2 separate regions of the Homo sapiens genome follow, and region 2 is linked to region 1. Evidence: fine-mapped expression QTL. A gene starts in region 1. The other region holds a variant in brackets. All regions are shown on one strand. Distances are from middle to middle. Region 1 holds the start of RGS3 (regulator of G protein signaling 3). Region 2 overlaps RGS3 (regulator of G protein signaling 3).

Region 1 (10,164 bases):
AAACTAGCTGTGGGGTATAGATGTATTCTATTTAGCCTTCATAACATTTTAAAACATTTTGAATGAGTTATTAATATTAACAAATTGGGAAATATTACATGGATTATTTAAGATTGCTGGCTTTTCTTTAAAAAAAAGTGACAAAACTGGGAGAATGTTGGCCTAGTTTCGCCACATTTTAATAGATCTGCTCTATTGTATATTTTCTTTCTTTTTTCTTTTTTTGAGACAGAGTCTTGCTCTGTTGTCCAGGCTGGAGCACAGTGGCATTATCTTGGCCCACTGCAACCTCTGCCTCCCGGGTTCAAGTGATTCTCATGCCTCAGTCTCCCGAGTAGCTAGGACTACAGGCGCATGCCACCACACCTGACTATCTTTTGTATTTTTAGCAAACATGGGTTTCACCATATTGATCAGGCTGGTCTTGAACTCCTGACCTCAGGTGATCCATCCATCTTGGTCTCCCAAAGTGTTGGGATGACAGGCATGAGCCACTGCATCCAGCCTCTATTGTATATTTTCTATTTAATTAACTTCTATTCTTACTTTTATCTTTTACCTTTGGTCTATAGTTTTCTGTTTCTAACCTTACTTGGTTTTTGTCTTTGTCTAGCTTTCTACCTAGCGCTGACACATCTTTGTTTTTTCCTATGTTCTGAAATAGTTAAAACTACATTAGCATCATCTGTTTCTTGAAGATCTTATAGAATTAGCCTCTTAAAACTATCTGGATTTTCTATAATTTTGTCGAATAGAGTTTTGGTTTCCTTTTCTATTTTATCTATAGTTAGTGATCTATTAAAAATTTCAAACTTTTTATCAATTTTACTAATTAATACTTTCTAGAAAATCATCCAGTTCCTTTCAGATTTTCAAATTTATACAATAAGGTTGCAGTGGTTTTCTCTTATAATTTAAAATATTAGCCAGCACGGTGGTTCACGCCTATAATCCCAGCGCTGTGGGAGGCCAAGGTGTACGGTTCACTTGAGGTCAGGAGTTCGAAACCATCCTGGCCAACATGGTGAAAACCTGTCTCTACTAAAAATACAAAAATTAGCTAGGTGTGGTGGCGCGTGCCTGTAGTCTCAGCTACTTGGGAGGCTGAGGTATGAGAATCGCTTGAACCTGGGAGTGAGCTGAGATTGTGCCATTGCACTGCAGCCTGGGTGACAGAGCGAGATTCTGTTTCAAAAAAAATAAAAAAAAAGAGGCCGGGCTCAGTGGCTCACACCTGTAGTCCCAGCACTTTGGGAGGCTGAGGTGGGCAGATCACCTGAGGTCAGGAGTTTGAGACCAGCCTGGCTAACATGGTGAAACCACCTTTCTACTAAAAATACAAAAAATTAGCCGGGCATGGTAGTGTACACCTGTAATCTCAGCTACTCGGAAGGCTGAGGCAGGAGAATTGCTTGAACCTTGGGAGGCGGAGGTTGCAGTGAGCAGAGATCGCACCACTGCACTCCAGCCTGGGCAACAAGAGAGAAACTCTCTCAAAAAAAAAAAAAAAAATCACCTGTATATCTTGGCTTTCTCTTCCCTAAACTTGCTTATTTCTGGTTTTCTGTATACATTTTGCCAGAGGTCTATTTTACTGAACTTTTCAGAGACAAGGCTTTGGTCTTATTGTTGAAGTTTATTTTTTTGAGGATAAATTTCACCTTTAACCTTATTTCCTTTTAAAATTTTCTCCTGGCCAGGCGCAGTGGCTCATGCCTGTAATCCCAGCACTTTGGGAGGTTGAGATGGGCAGATCGCAAGGTCAGGAGATCGAGACCATCCTGGCTAACAGGTAAAACCCCGTCTCTACTAAAAATACAAAAAATTAGCCGGGCGTGTTGGCGGGTGCCTGTAGTCCCAGCTACTCGGGGGGTGCTGAGGCAGGAGAATGGCGTGAACCCAGGAGGTGGAGCTTTCAGTGAGCCGAGATTGCGCCACTGCACTCCAGCCTGAGTGACAGAGTGAGACTCCGTCTCCAAAAAAAAAAAAATTTTTTTTTCTTCTGAATTAGCTTATTCCTCTTCTAACTTTTTGAAATGAATTTTTAGTTAAAACACTTTAAATCTTTGTTATTTTCTAAATAAATTATCCCCTTGAACTTTCTACTCTAATTCCATCGATCTGTCTTTTCTTTTTAGTTTTATATTATTTAACACCATTTAACATCTGGTAGTACAAGTTCCCTTTGTTATTATTTTTCTAAGTTTTCTTGGTTATTATTGGGCTAGATGATATCTTAAAGTCACTAAGATTCTTTGAGAGTTATTGTGAAAATGCACCCAAATAAATCCATTTAGTCCCTTCTTTTCAAACTCAAGTATTCCTTATTATTCCAGATATAGTCAGTCTTTAAAAAAATGCCTAAAATCATTGCTCGATACTTTATTAAGTGCTTCAAATCAATCTGTATATATGCATATGGTATATATGTAGTGTATGTGTTTTGTGTGCATGTGTCAGTGTGATGTGTGCTTATATATATGCATAGGATGCATATATAATGTGTGGGGTGTGTTTGTATATGTATGTGAGGTGTGTATGTAGTGTGTTTATGTATGTGTATATGTGCATATGATGTGACTGTGTGTGTACATGGGATATGTTGAGGTATGTGTATGTATGTGTGCAGAGTGTATGATTGTTATCGTGTGTGGTATGATAATGTATGTGTGGAGTGTGTGTGCACATGTGTGAGGTGGAAGAACCCCAGGGGGTGCTAGAATGCTCAGGACATGTGAGAAAGCCAGGCTTGGTCCAACTCTCCTGCCTTCTTGGGGAAAGCAGGGCCATGATCATGAGCCTTTCTGGATGTTGCTTTTGGACAGCAGTGTGGGTTAATAGGGCCAGTCTCTCCTGAAGTGCCCTGCCCAAGCTCCCACTCACCTCTCTCCTCCATCTCTTGAGGAAAGGGTGACCGACCTGTCCTTTTAGGAAAAGGAAGCTTCCAGCACGCTACTGAGTAAAGGAGCCTTACTGGTGGTGGTGAAGGTGATACCATCAGAGGGGCCAGCTCAGGATCAGGCTGGCCTTGCAATCTTCCAACTGAATATGTTAGCTGCAGAGTGGGGCAGGAGTCAGGAGGGGACCTACAAAGCAGTAGAATCTTTGTTCCCATTACCGGGTGTAAGTGCCCAGTGTGGGCCTCGGTCTTTTCTCTCCTAGGTCACATTCAGACAGCACACCTTTGCCCAATTTTCTTTCTGGATCTCACCGTCCTGAGTGTTGTACCTGCAGGTTGCTCACAGCCTCTGGAGCCCAAGATAGTCTCCCCTTTGGGAGGAGGCTCTACAGTGGTCCCTGGCGAAGTTGTGAAGAGGTGACTATCATCTCAGGCACATCACCTTCCCTTTTCCCTGTGGGCCTTCCTTTGCTGTTTCCTGAACACCATGCTTTCTAGTTCCTACTGGGAGTGAACACACCTTGCATGGAGCATCTTCAGGCCATGGCTAACTCATGCTCCCATCTTGCTCCTGCAGGTCTGCCACGTCTCTGTGCTCAGTGTCCTCTCTACATCCTGTGGCTTGAGCCTGAGCTTGCCCATATTCCCTGGCTGGATGGAGTGGCTAAGCCCTGATATCGCTCTGCCCAGAAGAGATGAGTGGACTCAAACTTCTCCAGCCAGGAAGAGGATCACGCATGCCAAAGTCCAGGGTGCAGGTAAGTCCATCTGTCACTGGCTTGAGGCTAGGAGAGTGGACCTGCTCTTGTTAAAGGCAGTGTTCACCATGTGTGTGTGTAACCGGGGTTGGAGGGGGAGAGTGGGGTGGGGTGGGGGGGTGCAGTAAAGAGCAGGGCAGGACTTCACGAAGTGCCAGGATTCAAACAATCCTACGGCATTTATGTGATTTATCACCAGTTTGCTGATTCAGGGCTCCTTCTGCAGTTTCTGCTCCTCGCTGGTGGCCACCTGACCCTGTGGCGTTTGCTCCTTCCACCTGCTGTTGGCCATGGGGCAGATGTGGAGGCCAAGGAAGAATAGGACAATGGCGTTTGGGGCAGACAGGCCTGGGTTCAAATTTCAGCTCTGCCTATTCCTAGCTCTGCAAACCTTGGGCATGTCACCTGTCTTCTCTGCCTGAGGTTCAGATTTCTTCCTGGTAAATTGGGGCTAATACTTATTAGACTTACCGTGAAGATTAACTGAGATGATGTGTGTAAATTGCCCAGCTCAGCTCAGCCTCTGGCATCTGGTACTCAACACATAACTCTTCTCTCCACTTTCTGTCTTGCATCTCCCCATCTTGTTTTTGAGTGGATCACTGAACCACAAATATCCACTTGGCGATGAAGTCTGGGGAACAGGGACAAATACCAACACTTCCCATTTTTAGATTTACACGAGACTAACAGCTTTCCTTCCCACAGTGGCAACAGAGATTTGCAGAGCAGATGTCTTGGTGTGAAACTGCTACGAGGAGGTGTCCTGTAAATGTTTGCTGACAAAGCAGCAAAGCAGGGTTTGACCTTCCAGCTCTGCCTCCCCGCACCAGGCTGGGGGATTCACCCACCCCACTCCGTTTCCTGTGCGTTCCTCTTTCTCAGAGGCTGTGGGCCTGTCCTGCTGTCCGATGGCATCAGGCTGTGGGACGGGGGGCCATCAGGTTGGTTGGAGCAAGCTGCTCCCATCCGGACCTGTGTCAGGCAGCACTTGTTCAAGAGGAGGCTCAAGAGAGTGATCCAGGATGCAGGGTTTGGGAAGAGGATGCAGCATGGTGGGGGGCGACCTGTCCAAGCGCAGAGAACACTTTTCCAAACCTCACTGCCCTGGGCCATCGGGTGCTCCTTTGCCTTTGCTTGGATCTAATGATTATAGGCCTGAGCTTCAAAGCAGGTTATAAACCCGACTAATTGCTGGTCTAGGAGAGCTGGACGAGGAGGCCAAGCCTGCCCAGAGTGGGCACCCCGGACTGGGCCTTCTCGTGGGACTGGCATTTCCAACCGGGAGCGCGGTGCTGGGGCCGGGATACCCGGGGTGGCCGCACCGTCCTGCTGGCTCCTTGGGTGGCTGCCGTCGCTGCTCAGCGCGGGTCGGCGGCGCCGCCTCCCCCACCCCGGCCCAGCTCTGCTCCGGCAGGTGGAACTCTCCCCATTCAAACCCGCGCGGGCCAATCAGGGCCGGGCGCGCCCTGGCCGTTCCAACGCTTGGGGCAGCCCTACCTCCCGCTCGCGCTCCTCCCGCCCTGGAGACTCCGGTTACTGGGGAGCAACACAGCCGCCTCGGGTTGCAGACGCTCCTGTCCGGGTCGCAGTGGGACGCCATGGAGCGCTCCCTGCACCGCGTCTCCCTCGGGAGCCGGCGTGCCCACCCGGACTTGTCCTTCTACCTCACCACCTTTGGTAAGTGCCCGCTGGGGCTGGCGGCAGGGGCTGCTTCACCCTGCTCCCAGCGCCCAGAAACGCAGCCCCTCGTGGTGACAGGGGAGGCTGGGAGCAGGTGCTCTTTCTATCTAGGGGCACCTTCTCTGGCCCCTTTCTCCTGTGACTGCCCAGGAGGGGCTCAGGGCACAGGCTCAGTCCAAGCAAGCTGCTGGACACCACCTGCTGCCCGGCCATGAGTGCCAACTGCGGTTGGTTCTGCCTCACTTGGCTGGAATAATCACGCTCTGGTTAATCTTTCAGAGACCTGGGTTGTCACCACGGAGTTTCTCATTAGCAAGCAGCTCAGGTTAAATCAAGGTCTTGTTATAGCAACTGGAGATCTCATTCACCCACTTTCCTTTGGCTCAGGGAGCGGACAGGTGCTGGGCCCTTTGGCCCTGCTGCCTTGTGGGGAGGCTGCAATTTGACTTTGTTGGGTATCTGAGCCACAGTGGAGATGGGAGAATTCTCTCCTCCAAGAAAGAACAATCCCTTAGGAGGGTCCCAGGGCTGCCTCAGGGTTTGAGGTGGAAAGAAGTGAACAGTAGGCTTCACTCCCAAGCCCCTAAGTAGCAGACTGAGTTCCCCCAAATAACAGCTGGGCGGCAGCTGCCCAAAGGTCTGGGCAAACCTGGCCTTCCTGGTAGCCATAGTAAAGGTAACAACCCTACCCTTGAGGGTAACCCTTCATTTCCTCACTGGTCCTGCAACTCTCTGTGGAGAGGGGTTATTTTTCCTCTGTGAAGACTTGAAACCAAGAGATCTTCCATGAGCCAGTGGCAGAGTTCGTAGCTGAGCTCAAGCTTTCCAGAGATGACCTGTCCAGCGCATTTTTGTTTGAACTTGCATACAATTTCCTTCTAAAGGTTGGGGCTGTTACTGAAACATTACTGGACATTGCCCAGCTTTCAAAGACAGAGTGCCCAAGGAGTTTGGTCCCTCCCTGGGGTTCCTGGCTCTTCTGTTTTCAGGCTTACTCCTGCTCAACATATTTGGTTTTCCACAACCTGCTTTTTTTCCTTAGGGGTAGAGGGAATGATGGAAGAGCAGTGGCTTGGCCTCTGAAATTGCCTGACGTCTGGCAGCAGGAATTCACTGGTCTAGTTGGTGGACGATAAAGGGCAATTAACTAGCCATCATTTGTTGAGAACTTACCATTGCCATTCCTTATGCCAAGTGTTTTACCTGCATTATCTCACTTAATGCCCCAGCGTAGGAGGCAATTCCTGCTAACCCCATTGGGATGCAGGGCTCTGTGAGACAAGGGTGGTTTCCAGGATGATCTGTATTGGCTGGGGTAGGAGTGATCAGGAAAGGGTGTCAGGGAGCTGTGAGGCCCTCTTACCTTAGCTGTGTCCTGATTAAAAAGTAAAAATATGTTTGCTTTTTTCCTCCTTATTATCATGGTTACATGTGTTTACTGCTGAAAACTTAGTGAAAAGAAGAAAGTGAAAATCACTTGTAATCTGACTTCCCAGGGAGACCACTGTTAACTTTCTGATTTATATCCTCCCAGGCTTATTTCCACACCTATTTCTGTGTGTGTGTGTGTGTGTGTGTGTGTGTGTGTGTGTGTGTGCCTGTGTGTATTTAGGGGTCAAATTTCAACACAATTGAGATCAAGTTTGTATGGACAATTTTGTAACCCATATGTTTTCCTTAGTGGCCTGATGTGAATATTTCCTTGCATTGGTCCATGTTCTTCTATTAGATTAATCTGCCTGCCAGATCTGGGAAGCTGAGGAGGGTTCAGGCCCAGCAGGGAGTGGATCTTCCTGCCCAGCCATGGCCTCAGGGCTGAGTCTGATGGGTATCAGGGAAGGCTGCTGCTTGAACAAGTGACTGTGACCTGAGTGTGCAGGAGGCAGACAGGAGCCTGGGTGGGGTGGGAAGCCACCTGCTCTTATTCGTGCAGGCTCCTCTCACATCTCTCTAAGGATGCTTATGAGAGCATTTGAGAAATTCTCTCCTGTTTCCTGCACTGGCTCTGTTTCCCTGGGTGCCATTTGTCGTGGTGCCCCTCTTTCAGGCTGCTGATTTTCTTTATCCACTGTGATCTTCACTGATCTGCTTATGAGCAAAGATTCCTATCAGTGGTTTCCAAACCCAGCCAAATATCAGAAGCATGTGGGGAGCCTGTTAAAAATACACAGATTCCTAGAATCTTCTTCTGGAGACTCTAGTTTAATAGGTCTGGGGTGGAGCCTGAGAATATGAACACTTAAGAAGCCATAGAGCGTTCAGACTGTCATCCAGGTTTGGAAGCTATGGATTCAGAGTCAGTTTTGGTAGCAATTGGGACCACTTTTACTGTGAAGGTTTTGGCTAAGTTTTTCTCAGTTCACTGGCCTTTCCTTAGCAAAGTAGGTAGCCCCTGGCCTTCTACTGTGAGCTTTGCCTTGGTAGAACCAGATGAAGATGTTGCTTAGCTGGTAGTTTCCTGAGCACAGACATGTAAAGGGAGCATAATCATCTATGGAAATATAAAGAGACAAAACTGTTTTGATGAGAATTCCCTTCGGGGAGAGTACTGCATGATATATGTATTTGTGTGTACACATGAACACAACCCCTTGTCCCCCAAAAGGAGTATGTTCAAGTGACATTAATTGAAGGACACTGCGTTCTGAGGAGGTGGCCTTACTTCAGGGGAAGGGAGTAGGCAAGCTGAGGCTAGGACCCAACTACTCTAGAGGGATTTTTTTTTCTTTATTGTGAAAAATGATGTAATTTGAAGTCATTGTAGGTATACATAATATTTTTCTCCAGGATTGTATATTTTATTTTGATTAGGATATTTGCTGATTTTTCTTGTAACAGCTTTATTGAAATATAATTCAGATATATACAATTCACTCATTTAAACCATACAATTCAATGGTTTTTAGTATATTCACAGAGATGTGTAACTATTATCACAATTTCAGAACATTTTCATTCCCTCAAAAAGAGACATTATGCTCTTTAGCTTGTACCGTCCTCCCTTGTCCCGAGCCCAAAGCAATTGCTAATCTATTCTCTCCCTCTGTAGATTTGCCTGTTCTGGACATTTCATATAAATGGAATCGTATTTTTTTTTTTATGACTGACTTCTTTCACTTAGCATAATGTTTTCAAGTTTAATCCATGTTGTAGCAGATATCATACTCCATTCATTTTTATGGCTGAGTAGTATTCATTGTATGGCTATACCACATTTTAAAAATTTATTCATCTGGTGATGAATATTTTGGCTGTTTCTCCCTTTTGACTATTATGAATAATACTGCCATGAACATTTGTGAACAAGTTTTTGTGTGGACAAATGTTTTCATTTCTCTTCATATACACACAGTATATACCTAGGAGTAGATTTGCTGAGTCCTATGGTAACTCTGTGTTTAACTATTTAGGGAACTACCAAACTCTTTTCCAAAGTAGGTGTATCATTTTATGTTCCCATCAGCTGTGTATATGGGTTTTGGTTTTTCCACATTCCTTACCAACACTTGTTATTATCTGACTTTTTAATTCTAGCTATCCTAGTGGGTGTGAATTGATATTCACTATAGTTTCGATTTGCATTTTCCTGATGACCCGTGATGTTGAACATTTTTTCATGTGCTCATTATTTATATATCTTCTTTGGAGAAGAATGTATTCAGATCTTTTGTTCATTTTAAAATTGGGCTTTTTGTCTTGTTATTATTGAGTTGTAAGATTTCTTTATATATTCTAGATGCAAGCTCCTTAACCGATATATGATTTGCAAATATTTTCTCTCTATCTGTGGGTTTTTTTCACTTTCTTGATAGTGTTCATTGAATCCCAAACTTTTTTTGGGGATGGGGTCTTGTTTTGTTGCCCAGGCTGGAGTTCAGTGGCATGATCATGGCTCCTCTTTGACCATGCAGCCTCAACCTCCTGTGCTTAAGCGATCCTCCCACTTCAGCCTCCTGAGTAGCTGGTACTACAGATGTGCACCACCATGCCTGGCTAATTTTTCTTATGTAAAAAAAACTTTTTGTAGAGATGAGGTTTCCCTATGTTGCCCAAGCTAGTCTTGAACTCAGGGACTCAAGCGATCTCCTGCCTTGGCCTCCCAAAGTGCTGGGATTATAGGCATGAACCACTGTGTCCAGCCAGAACCCCAAACATTTTTAATTTTGATGAAGTTCAATTTACTTTATCTTTTGTTACTTGTACTTTGTGTTATATCTCAGAATTCACTGCCAAATCTAAGGTTCTGTCAGTTACCAAGAGATTTACCTGTATGTTTTCTTCTAAGAGTTTTATAGTTTTGGCTCTTATATTTAGGTCTTTGATCCACTTTGAGTTAATTTTTGTGTATGGTATGAGGTAAGAGTTCAACTTCATTGTTTTTTGTGGCTATCCAGTTGTCCCAGTACCATTTGTTGAAAATACCATTATTTCTCTATTGGATGATCTTGGTACCTTTACTGAAAATCAATTGCCCATAAACCCACGGCTTATTTCTAGGCTTTCAATTCTATTCCATTGATCTATCTGCCTATTATCATTCCAGTATCATACTGTCTTGATTACTGTTGCTTTGTAGTACATTTTGAAATCAGGTTGTGTAAATCCTCCAATTTTGTTCTTCTCTTTCAAGATCATTTTGGCTGTCCTGGGTCCCTTGAATTTCCATATGAATTTTAGGCATAATATTTTATATAGAAAATAAAAAAACTCAAGTTCACAAAAATGTTGGATAGATAGTTTTAAAATATCATCTTGAAGGGATACCAACTTATTAGTTTGACTGATGAAGCAAATTATTAATTTACCTGGGGTCTCTGAACCAAA
Region 2 (10,164 bases), 120 kb after region 1:
AGCAGTGGTGTCAGAAATGGAGGCGAGAGGAGAAGGGACCTGGTGAGGGGGTGACAGGGCAGCACCGTGCTGAAACCCAGACCCCGGGAGCCGCCTCCCCGCCCTGGGAGAAGCTGGGCATCCAGGCAGGTGGTGGTGGGTCTCCAGCAGGCTGCAAGCGGCATGTCCTTCTGGCTTGGTCAGGCGATAGCCAAGAGTAGGAAGGTTTTCTGAGGGGGCCCTCGTGTCTCCTCTTTCCTCAGGGATTCCCTTTCTGTGAGTGTTGGCTTTGTCCTGAGAGTCCCTGCGCGGGGGTGAGCTAACCTTCTGTGCCTCAGTATTGCTTTCTGTAGAGTGGGTGCACTCCCTGCTGTGGTGTGCCGCCCTCCTGAGCCTCTGACAGAGGAGCTTCAGTCTGTGGTCGAATTCTTCCTTTGCCCCTCTCTCCTCCTGCAGTGGGGCCTCTGTTTAGGGAACGTGAATGGGCAGCTGCCTCCAGGGAACTTGCCACCTCCCCCGTCCTGCTCCAAGGTCATGCCTCTTCTGCACAGGCTCCCCACTATAGAGAGGGTTCTATGTGTTGGAACTGGTCCTGGGCGAGGTTCTGGGCTGGATTTTAGTGCTGATTCTGTTGTATGACCTTGGCCTTATCACTTCCCTTCTCTGGGCCTCACGTAACAGACAGTCACCTTGCCTGTTACCTGACGCCACTCTCCAGAATTGTCTCGTCAGTCAGAAAGAAGTAAAAAGGCCTGGGCCTTACTCCTAGGGACTGTGATGCAGTAGGTCTTAGATTGGGTCCAGACAGGCATTTTTAAGATACTCCTCAGGTGATTCTAAAGTGTACTTCTCCGTTAAGAACCAATAGTCTAGGTCGGTGTTTTTCAAACTTTAATGTGCAAATGAATCTCCTGGGATCCTATTAAAGTGCAGGTTCCGATCCAGTGGGTGTGAATTGAGGTTTACGAATGTGTATTTTATGAGGTCAGGAGATCGAGACCATCCTGGCTAACATGGTGAAACCCCGTCTCTACTAAAAATACAAAAAATTAGCCGGGCGTGGTGGCAGGTGCCTGTAGTCCCAGCTACTTGGGGGGCTGAGGCAGGAGAATGGCGTGAACCCGGGAGGCGGAGCTTGCAATGAGCTGAGATCACGCCACTGCACTCCAGCCTGGGCGACAGAGCGAGACTCCATCTCAAAAAAAACAAAAACAAAAACAAAAAAATGAGTGTGTATTTTATATAAGCTCCTGGGTGATGCTGCTGCTGGCTCTTGGGCTGCACTTTGAGGCTAAGAGTCTAGATGGTCCTGTGAAGTTCACTGGATTGTTCTTTCTTTTTTTTTTTTTGAGACAGAGTCTTGCTCTGTCACCAGGCTGGAGTGCAGTGACGTGATCTTGGCTCACTGCAACCTCCGCCTCTGGGGTTCAAGCCATTCTCCTGCCTCAGCCTCCCGAGTAGCTAGGATTACAGGCGCCCACCACCACGTCCAGCTAATTTTTGTATTTTTGGTAGAGACGGGGTTTCACCATGTTGGCCAGTATGGTCTCGATCTCCTGACCTTGTGATCTGCCCTTCTTGGCCTCCCAAAGTGCTGGGATTACAGGCGTGAGCCACCGCACCCAGCGATTGTTCTTTCATTCATTTATTCATTCAAACACTTCAGGTGGGGAGTGGTCAGACGTGAGGCTACAGGGAGACAGAGCCCAGGGTCTTCCAGGGCTACAGAATTTGGACTTTATCTGAGAGGTATTGGGGAGCCAGCCACAGCAACGTTTTAAGCAGAGGAGTGACAAGTTGAGGTTTGCATGGAGGCAGCTCCCCTGACATAGCACAGAGAATGGCCAGTGGGGTCTGCACCGCCACTGTGAGCCCCACATCATCCTGGTGGGGGATGACAGTGGTCTAGAGGGAAGTGGCAGCAGTGGACATGGAGAGAGTAGAAACATTCTTTTTAAAAAAGATTAATCAACTTTTTAATTTTTTGATTTTTTACTTTTGAGACAGAGTCTCACTCTATTGCCCAGGCTGGAGTGCAGTGGTGCAATCTCGGCTCACTGCAACCTCCGCTTCCTGGATTCAAGCAATTCTCCTGCCTCAGACTCCCAAGTAGCTGGGATTACAGGTGCGCGCCATGTTGCCTGGCTAATTCTCGTATTTTTAGTAGAGACAGGGTTTTACCATATTGGCCAGGCTGGTCTCGAACTCCTGACCTGAGGTGATCCACCCGTCTTGACCTCCCAAAGTGCTGGGATTACAGGCTTGAGCCACCGTGCCTGGCCTCAACTTTTATTTTTTAGAAATTAGCTTTAGAAATTAGTGCAAAGTACAGAGAGTTCCAATATACTTTGTCCTACTTATTGCCAACCTCCCTAGTAAAAAGATCCTTGAAGTTGTATAAGTGATGATCAGGATTTGAGGATTGACCATGGGGGTGGTCACGAAGGAAAAGGAGAAAATGATGGCCAATTCCCTGGTTTGGGCAACTGGTGGTGGCTTCATTGATACAGGGACCATTAGAGGAGGAATGATGGACTTGCGGGGAGATCACACATTCAGTGTAGGGCTTGTAGAGTTGGGGGTACTGATGGGATATGCAGAAGGAGGTCTCCATCCATGTCCCTGGGATGCAGCCACACAGCTGTCCTCTGTGTCAGCAGCATGCTAAGGCTCTTCCTGGCCCGGGGCTTTGGCCTATGCTGCTTCCTCCCCTAGTGAGCCCCGCCCTGCCCCTTGAGCAGATTTCGGTCTCCAGCCATTCCACAGGGCGGCCTTCCCAACACTCCCCTGGACTCTCTCACAGCACCCGAGGGTTTTCCTTCACACTGCAGATCTTGGTTTCTGTTTATCCTGTGTTTATGGCAGTGATGACTTGGTCAATATCCCTCCTTCCTCTCTAGTTCGTAGGCTCCACAAGGACAAGGATCATGTCTTTCTTATTCCTTCCTTTATGCACAGAGCCTAGAACAGTGTCTGGATGCAGAACTATTCCATGAGGATTTGTTGAATACTTGCCTGTGGCATCTCAACTCAGGAAAGCGGTCAGGGCTGGCAGAGTGGACTGCGAGTCATCAGTGGCCAGATGGTGCAGATAGCGATTGTGGCCTGGGGAGTGGGTGGGTTCCCAAGGGAGTGGACAGGACTGTGATGAGAGGGGCCCTGCAGCAGGTCCTGATGGACAGGCAGACAGGCCCATGAGAGGGTGGAGAAGGGGTGAAATTCAGGGAGGGAGATGTTAAGGCCACGCTGTGCTGGAGTGACCATGGCTATCGTTTATTGAGTGCTCATGGGTGCCCTCATGGTGCTGAGCTCTGGATACTCATTAGCTCATTTATTCCTCTAACAACATTGTGAGGAGATTCTAGAAATCCTATGTTATGGCTAAGGAAACTGAGGCACAGAAAGGTTAAGCCAAAGGTCACCCAGCAAGTAAGTGTGAAGTTAGTATCTGGAGCTCCCCCTAATGTAAGTACCGCCTCCATCCTCCTGAATTTTGCCAAACCTGCTGTGTTGGAGACAGTGGAGGTAGAGGGGAGAGGAGTATGGCCTGGAGGGTCTCTGAGCTGGTGGCGGAGGAAGGACTGGGGGTGTCAGCCTCTGGGTGGTCAAGAGGCCAGACCTGGAGGAGCTGGGCTGACGCTGAGCCAGGAGAGCTAAGTGTTAGCTGAGCCATCAAGGTTCCTGGAAGCTAGCATTGAGTCAGGGACCTGAGGCTAGGGATCCAGAGCATGCCAAGCTTGAAGGAACAGCCCATCTTGAAAGCCTGGGGGTCCAAGGCAGGGCAGGAATTCTAACAGCCTCTCCCTTTCTCAAAGGACTTTACAGTTCACAGAGTGCCTTCCTGCCCTTTCTCACTTGGTCCCCTTAGGTCTCTGGCACAGGAAGCAGCAGGCATCCTCACCCACTTTCATGGCAGAGAAAACCAAGCTTGGAGTGGGGTAGCTTGGGATCACACAGCTAGCAAATGATGGAGTGAAGATTCCAGTCCAGGTCTTCTGGCTGCATGTCCAGTGCTCTGTCAGTAAAATCCTGGCTGTTAAGGGCCACCCTGAGACAGAGGCAAACCCCAGTTTACACCCCCCCAGTGCAGGAAGTGGTTTTCGAGGGCAGATGCAGAGCCCGGCATCCGTGGTGGCTGTGATGAATCATCGGAGTGAGAGCTGCAGGTTGTCCCTGGGTCAGCAAACCTGGCTGCTCAGTGAGTAGCTGTGTGATGTTGGACAAGTCACTTTCAGCAGCCCACCACTACCCTCAACCCAACATCCGGTGGGCATCTGGGGCCCAGGAGCCAAAGCTGGTATGAGTGTGAACTCTGGGTGTCATAGCTGCCATCCCTCCTTAGCCTATTCTGAGCTCTGGATTGGATTTGGGAGAGGATTTGATTAGGTCCTAAACAGTGACTCCATTTAGAGGGCCTGGTTCATTTCCTGTGTGCTTACAGCAGATGAGACATGGGCAGAATTAACCTGGTCCAGCCAAGCCAAAGAAGTGATGGATGGGAAAGACACAGACCCCCACCTTGGGAGGGTGGGGCAGTGGCTTCCAGCACTCTAGACCCAAGGCCCTGGGTGAGCAAGCTGGTCTTCCTGGGGCGCCCTGGCTGGATTCTTGTTACTTCAGCTGTTGCAACAGCTGTCTCACTGGGTCCCCAGCTGCCTGT[A/G]CTTCCTCTATCAGAGCAGTCCCCATGCTCCTTCAAACTAGTTGTCTAACCTCTGTTTTTTCTACTTAACTGAGGGCAGAGATTGTGTCTGACTTGTTCCCTGCCGTCCTCCTAGTACCTACCTCAGTGCTTGGAGAATGCATGAATGTATGCGTGCCCCAGTCCTCCCTGCCATCCACACATCCTGCCCACATTCCCCAGAGCAGCTTTGACACAGCACAGCTCTGCCTGTGGCATTTCGTTGCTCACAGGGCAAATCCCATGCCCACCATGTGTTCTGCAACCTCCCCCTCATCTTTGCCTCCCCTCCTGCCCTAATTTTCTCCTACACTTGCCACCCTCCCACCCCTGGGTTTCTCGGGTTTCCTATAATTGCTCCGGAGCTCCCGTCAAACCACTTCCCACCCCAGCTCTCCCAAGAACAGGGGCCTTACCAAACCTGCACGCAGTCCCTGTTCATACAGACCTGCCTGGGAGCACAGAAAGAACCATGAGCTCTGGGCCCTGTTCGCCAGCATCTGCTGATGTGGGATGCACCCAGGTGCGGGGCCTCAGGCAGCACTCCAGGCTGTTCCTCCTCCTTCTACAGCCCTCTGAGGTCCCCAAACACTTGTGTGTAAGGCTCCAAGGAAACAGGGAGAGACCCTGGGCAGGAGATATGAGTTCTAATCCTGCATCAGCCTCTCATTCTTAGGTAATTCCTTTACCCTCTGGGACCCCAGGTTTCTTATCTCTAAAATAAGACCACTGATAGCTCCCATTGTATCAAAAGCTTTTCCAGGGCCAGGCACTGTGAGGAGACTCAAATAGTCCTGTGAGTCCAGTATGATATCACTGGGCTCAATTCCAGATGAGGAAACGGAGGCTCTGAGGTGTTGAGAGGCTTGGCCAGAGTTGCACAGCTAAAAAGTGGCCCCATTGGGATCAAAATCAGCCTGGCTCGGGTATCTGAGCACATAACCACTGGGCCCTCTGAGAACCCTTCCATCTTGGTTAGTTTCTCGGCTGATCTCTCTGGGTAGGTGCCCTCTGGGGGCAGTACCCCTGCCTGAGTGGCACTTCCCCTCCTGGCTTTGTTTGGTTTGGCCTCGATTTAGAACAGGGTTGGCAGAGGCAGGCTGACTTGCATTTCTGGTTTTGGGTTTGTTGCTGCACTTTCCCCAAGGGGTGGGCGGGCTCTGACTGACAGTCACCACTGGGACAGGCCTGGGCCCCACCCTCACCACCCAGGAAAGGGGAAATGCGGCCCGCTCCCCACTCAGTGCCACTCTGTGCCACTCCGTGCCAGGCCCTGAGGGCACCCGGTTGCTGCTTCCTTCCGTCTTTCCCCAAGGACTATCAGAGGCAGGTGGCTGGGCCAGGGGGTGGGTCGGGGGGAGGTCTGGCCATGTGGTAGGGTGATAGGACTGAGGGGCCCCAGGGAGCTGGCTGCAGGGCAGTTTGTTTCTCCTGATGGAGAATGCTCCCTGGTGGGTGGGGCGATGGGCTGGGGACTGGTTTGTTCATGGGGACAGAGATCAGAAGTGGGCTTGAGAAGAACAGGGCCAGAAGGCCTGGACTCTGGCCCCAGCCTAGCCCCTAATTTGTGCAGGGTGGCTTTGGGCAAGTCACTAAGTCACTGTCTAGACTGGGCCCTCAGCCTTCCTGTCTACCCAATGGAGGGTCTTTCTGTCCACCTGGGAACAGCCTGATAGGACTGAAGCACAGCCCTTAGTTTCCAGATGAGAATTCTGGACTGGAGGCCCTGACATTACAATTGCCAACACTGACTCTGGTGTTTGGCAAAATTTGGTGTATGTGGGAAACACGTGCCTCTGGTTGAGGTCCTTAACTTCAGAATTTCCCTCTAGATCAATGCTTTTTAAAGCACTAACTCCAACACCACCATCTTCTGTAGGAGCTTTCGAGCTTTCCAGCTTTTCCAGCATACGCTCCTGATCTGTTACTCAGGCATGCTGGTTATCCCATTTCATACGTGGACACCTTGAGGCCTAAAGGTTGGTGACTGGCTCTACCTGACACCTCTGTGTGATTCTAGGTTGCCCCTTGCTCCTCTCTGGGCCTCAGCCTTTCTGTCTATGCAGTGGGGATTTCGGATCGCTGTTGTTTCAGAGTCTGAGGCTATGAGGTCTGAGAGGGCCCTTGTGTGGAGTCACCTCTGAGCTGCAGGCAGGATTTCCAGGGCAAGAAGGCCACAGCATCAGCAGGCACCTGTCTTTGGCCTGTGAGCCATAGCCTAAGGCGTGCCCTTCCCGACCTTGGCCAGATCACGCTAGAGTCCTCCAAGGCCTCCCCTCCCTTGCCCAGCCACCTTCTCTGCTCTGCAGGGCTCCACTTTCACTTTCACACTCCCAGGCTGTGGCTCTTACCCGTGCCGAGCTTTCACATCCGCTCACATCTGTGCTCCCAGATGCCAGCGTGACCCCTGACACGTGTGTGCAGCAGCCTGCAGCTGCCCCAAGCCATGGCTGAACACTGACTCCCAGCTGTGGGGCTTCACCATTACAGACTCCCCAGGGCTTCAAAGACTTCTCAGCTTCGAGCATGGCTTTTGGCTGTCAGGGCAGCTGTACAATAGTGGGTAAGTCACCGGCCTTTGGGCTCAGTTTTCTCATCCATCAAATGGACATTAATGATTTCTACAATGAGAGCTCTTAACCCATGTTCTGGGGGTACTTACCCCTGAAGTTTTCTGCCAGTGTGCGCGTGTGCCCGCAGGTGCACACATTCCCAAGCATCTGTTCAGTTCCCGAGTATGGGTGAGGTCTTTCCCTTTCATTAGTTCTCAGCAGCTATGGCTTCTTGAAGACAGAACCTGGGCTCTAAATAAATAGTTCCAGCTCCGGCATTCCTGGTCCTTGACTGGGAGGGGCCCACCCCAGACTTGAGAACTGCCTCCCTGTGTGGTTGTGGCACCATGGACACTCCTGACTTTCTCGGGGCCCCAATCTTCTGGTGACATAGCTGCTATTCAGACTTTCATTAAGAGAAATGTTTTTCTCTTTGCACATGAAATCTACTGTCGAAACTCAGCAAAACCCCCTAGGATCCCGAGGGTTGTGTGTGAGGCAGGAGATGCTGTGTTTTTTGAGGAATCCCTGAGCTTCCTCCAAGCAGTTTAAAAATCCCTGGGTGGGTGATTCTTCAGGGAGGTTCCGTGTGTCTGCGACATCTGGTGAGTCCAGGTGTGGACAATATTTTAAAGTTCCGGTTTCATTCCAGTTTAATAGTTTCAAAAAGATACTTAAGCGTTCAGAGCACATTCTTGTTTGAATGACTCATTAGGATTTTTTAAACTTGAGTTCAGGTAGAAGACACCCTGGGCTGGGTTCAGTGACTGCCCTGGCTTGGTTCTGGTCCATAAGCAGAGACTGCCTGGTTCTCCTTTATCCCCAGAGGCAACTTTGACCCTGTTTCCTTTTCTGTAAAATGGGGACAGTGATGCTTCTTTTATAGGGTTGTCGGGAAGGCCACATAAGAGAGTGGGGTCAAGCTGGCCTGGCACCTGCCAAAGCAGGAGCTAGATAGATAGTGGTTATCTCTCCCTCTTCTCCTATAAATGACCAGCTGTGTTTTTGATGGAGCAGAAAGTTCAAGCAAGAAGACAGGGTGAGAATTGTTACCCAGCTAAGTCAAAGGGGCTTTGGGGGTTCCATCTGGCACCTCAGCTTTCAGACTGGGGGCCCGGGGTTCAGGCCACTGCCTGATTTCATGTCAGCTCATGCATGGTGTCTGGCATCTTGGAGCCTCCTCTTCTGAACTGTTCTTGTTTTCTTTTTGTTTCCCAGATGTTTGAGACGGAGGCAGATGAGAAGAGGGAGATGGCCTTGGAGGAAGGGAAGGGGCCTGGTGCCGAGGATTCCCCACCCAGCAAGGAGCCCTCTCCTGGCCAGGAGCTTCCTCCAGGACAAGACCTTCCACCCAACAAGGACTCCCCTTCTGGGCAGGAACCCGCTCCCAGCCAAGAACCACTGTCCAGCAAAGACTCAGCTACCTCTGAAGGATCCCCTCCAGGCCCAGATGCTCCGCCCAGCAAGGATGTGCCACCATGCCAGGAACCCCCTCCAGCCCAAGACCTCTCACCCTGCCAGGACCTACCTGCTGGTCAAGAACCCCTGCCTCACCAGGACCCTCTACTCACCAAAGACCTCCCTGCCATCCAGGAATCCCCCACCCGGGACCTTCCACCCTGTCAAGATCTGCCTCCTAGCCAGGTCTCCCTGCCAGCCAAGGCCCTTACTGAGGACACCATGAGCTCCGGGGACCTACTAGCAGCTACTGGGGACCCACCTGCGGCCCCCAGGCCAGCCTTCGTGATCCCTGAGGTCCGGCTGGATAGCACCTACAGCCAGAAGGCAGGGGCAGAGCAGGGCTGCTCGGGAGATGAGGAGGATGCAGAAGAGGCCGAGGAGGTGGAGGAGGGGGAGGAAGGGGAGGAGGACGAGGATGAGGACACCAGCGATGACAACTACGGAGAGCGCAGTGAGGCCAAGCGCAGCAGCATGATCGAGACGGGCCAGGGGGCTGAGGGTGGCCTCTCACTGCGTGTGCAGAACTCGCTGCGGCGCCGGACGCACAGCGAGGGCAGCCTGCTGCAGGAGCCCCGAGGGCCCTGCTTTGCCTCCGACACCACCTTGCACTGCTCAGACGGTGAGGGCGCCGCCTCCACCTGGGGCATGCCTTCGCCCAGCACCCTCAAGAAAGAGCTGGGCCGCAATGGTGGCTCCATGCACCACCTTTCCCTCTTCTTCACAGGACACAGGAAGGTGAGAAAGCTAAAGGGGGAGGGAGAAGGATACATGCAATGTGGGGAGGGCTGGCCCAGGGGCTGCAGGGAATGAGAAGTCACCATGTTCCACCCCCACTATCCTGGCAGCCTCCCAGCGAACTTTCCACCTGTTGGACAGAAGATAAAACTGAGGCCCAATGGGACCAAGAAGGCAGAGCATGGACTTAAACACATGACTTTAGGATTCCAGATGCTGTGTTCTTATAGCTCCACTGGTCCCCACAGAAAGCAGAGCAGGTGTAGCTTAGCCCAGGCCATTGTGTATTTGGATTTAAAAGATCTGAGATAGTAGCTGGAGAAATAGAGTTACAGCCTAGCCAGACTAGAAATCCATCAGCCAGTCACAATGACAACACACATTTATTCCGTGTCCACATTATCCTAAGCAGTTTACATTAACTCATTAACTCTCACAACAGCCCTTTGAAGTAGATAGTATTTTTGTGCCCATTTTACAGCAGAGGAAACCGAGGCAAAGAGAGGTTATCTAACTTGCTCCAGGTTACACAGTGTATCAGTGTCTGAACTAGAATTAGAATCTGGTTCCAGGGCCAGTGCTCTTAACCAACCACCACACCGTTTGCCTCTCGTGAATATTTATATGTAGATGAATAAGTATTTATGGATTTCCTGCTGTGTACCAGGCCCTGCGCTCTGCAACATGGCAGGAGCCACAGAAGTGTGTGAGGCTGGTCTCAACCTGAGAGAAATAAGTTAACTGTGTGAGCCTTGAAAG

Evidence for each region. PIP is the estimated chance that this variant, and not a neighbour inherited with it, causes the effect.
Region 2: its variant is fine-mapped to the expression of RGS3 in whole blood (TOPMed, PIP above 0.99).

Annotation. Positions count from the first base shown.
Region 1 is chr9:113,458,545-113,468,708 of GRCh38, forward strand. RGS3 (regulator of G protein signaling 3) reads left to right here and starts at 5,183. Exons shown (of 23, transcript NM_001394167.1): 1 at 5,183-5,337. The coding sequence starts at 5,259. RefSeq lists enhancers at 4,086-5,040, 5,041-5,995.
Region 2 is chr9:113,575,023-113,585,186 of GRCh38, forward strand. RGS3 (regulator of G protein signaling 3) reads left to right here. Exons shown (of 23, transcript NM_001394167.1): 18 at 8,428-9,405. Among named protein-coding and RNA genes, the nearest start is that of RGS3, 120 kb to the left of the region's middle. RefSeq lists enhancers at 4,099-4,188, 6,670-6,719, 6,880-7,049, 6,947-7,455. The variant A/G (reference allele first, on the strand shown) is at 4,640.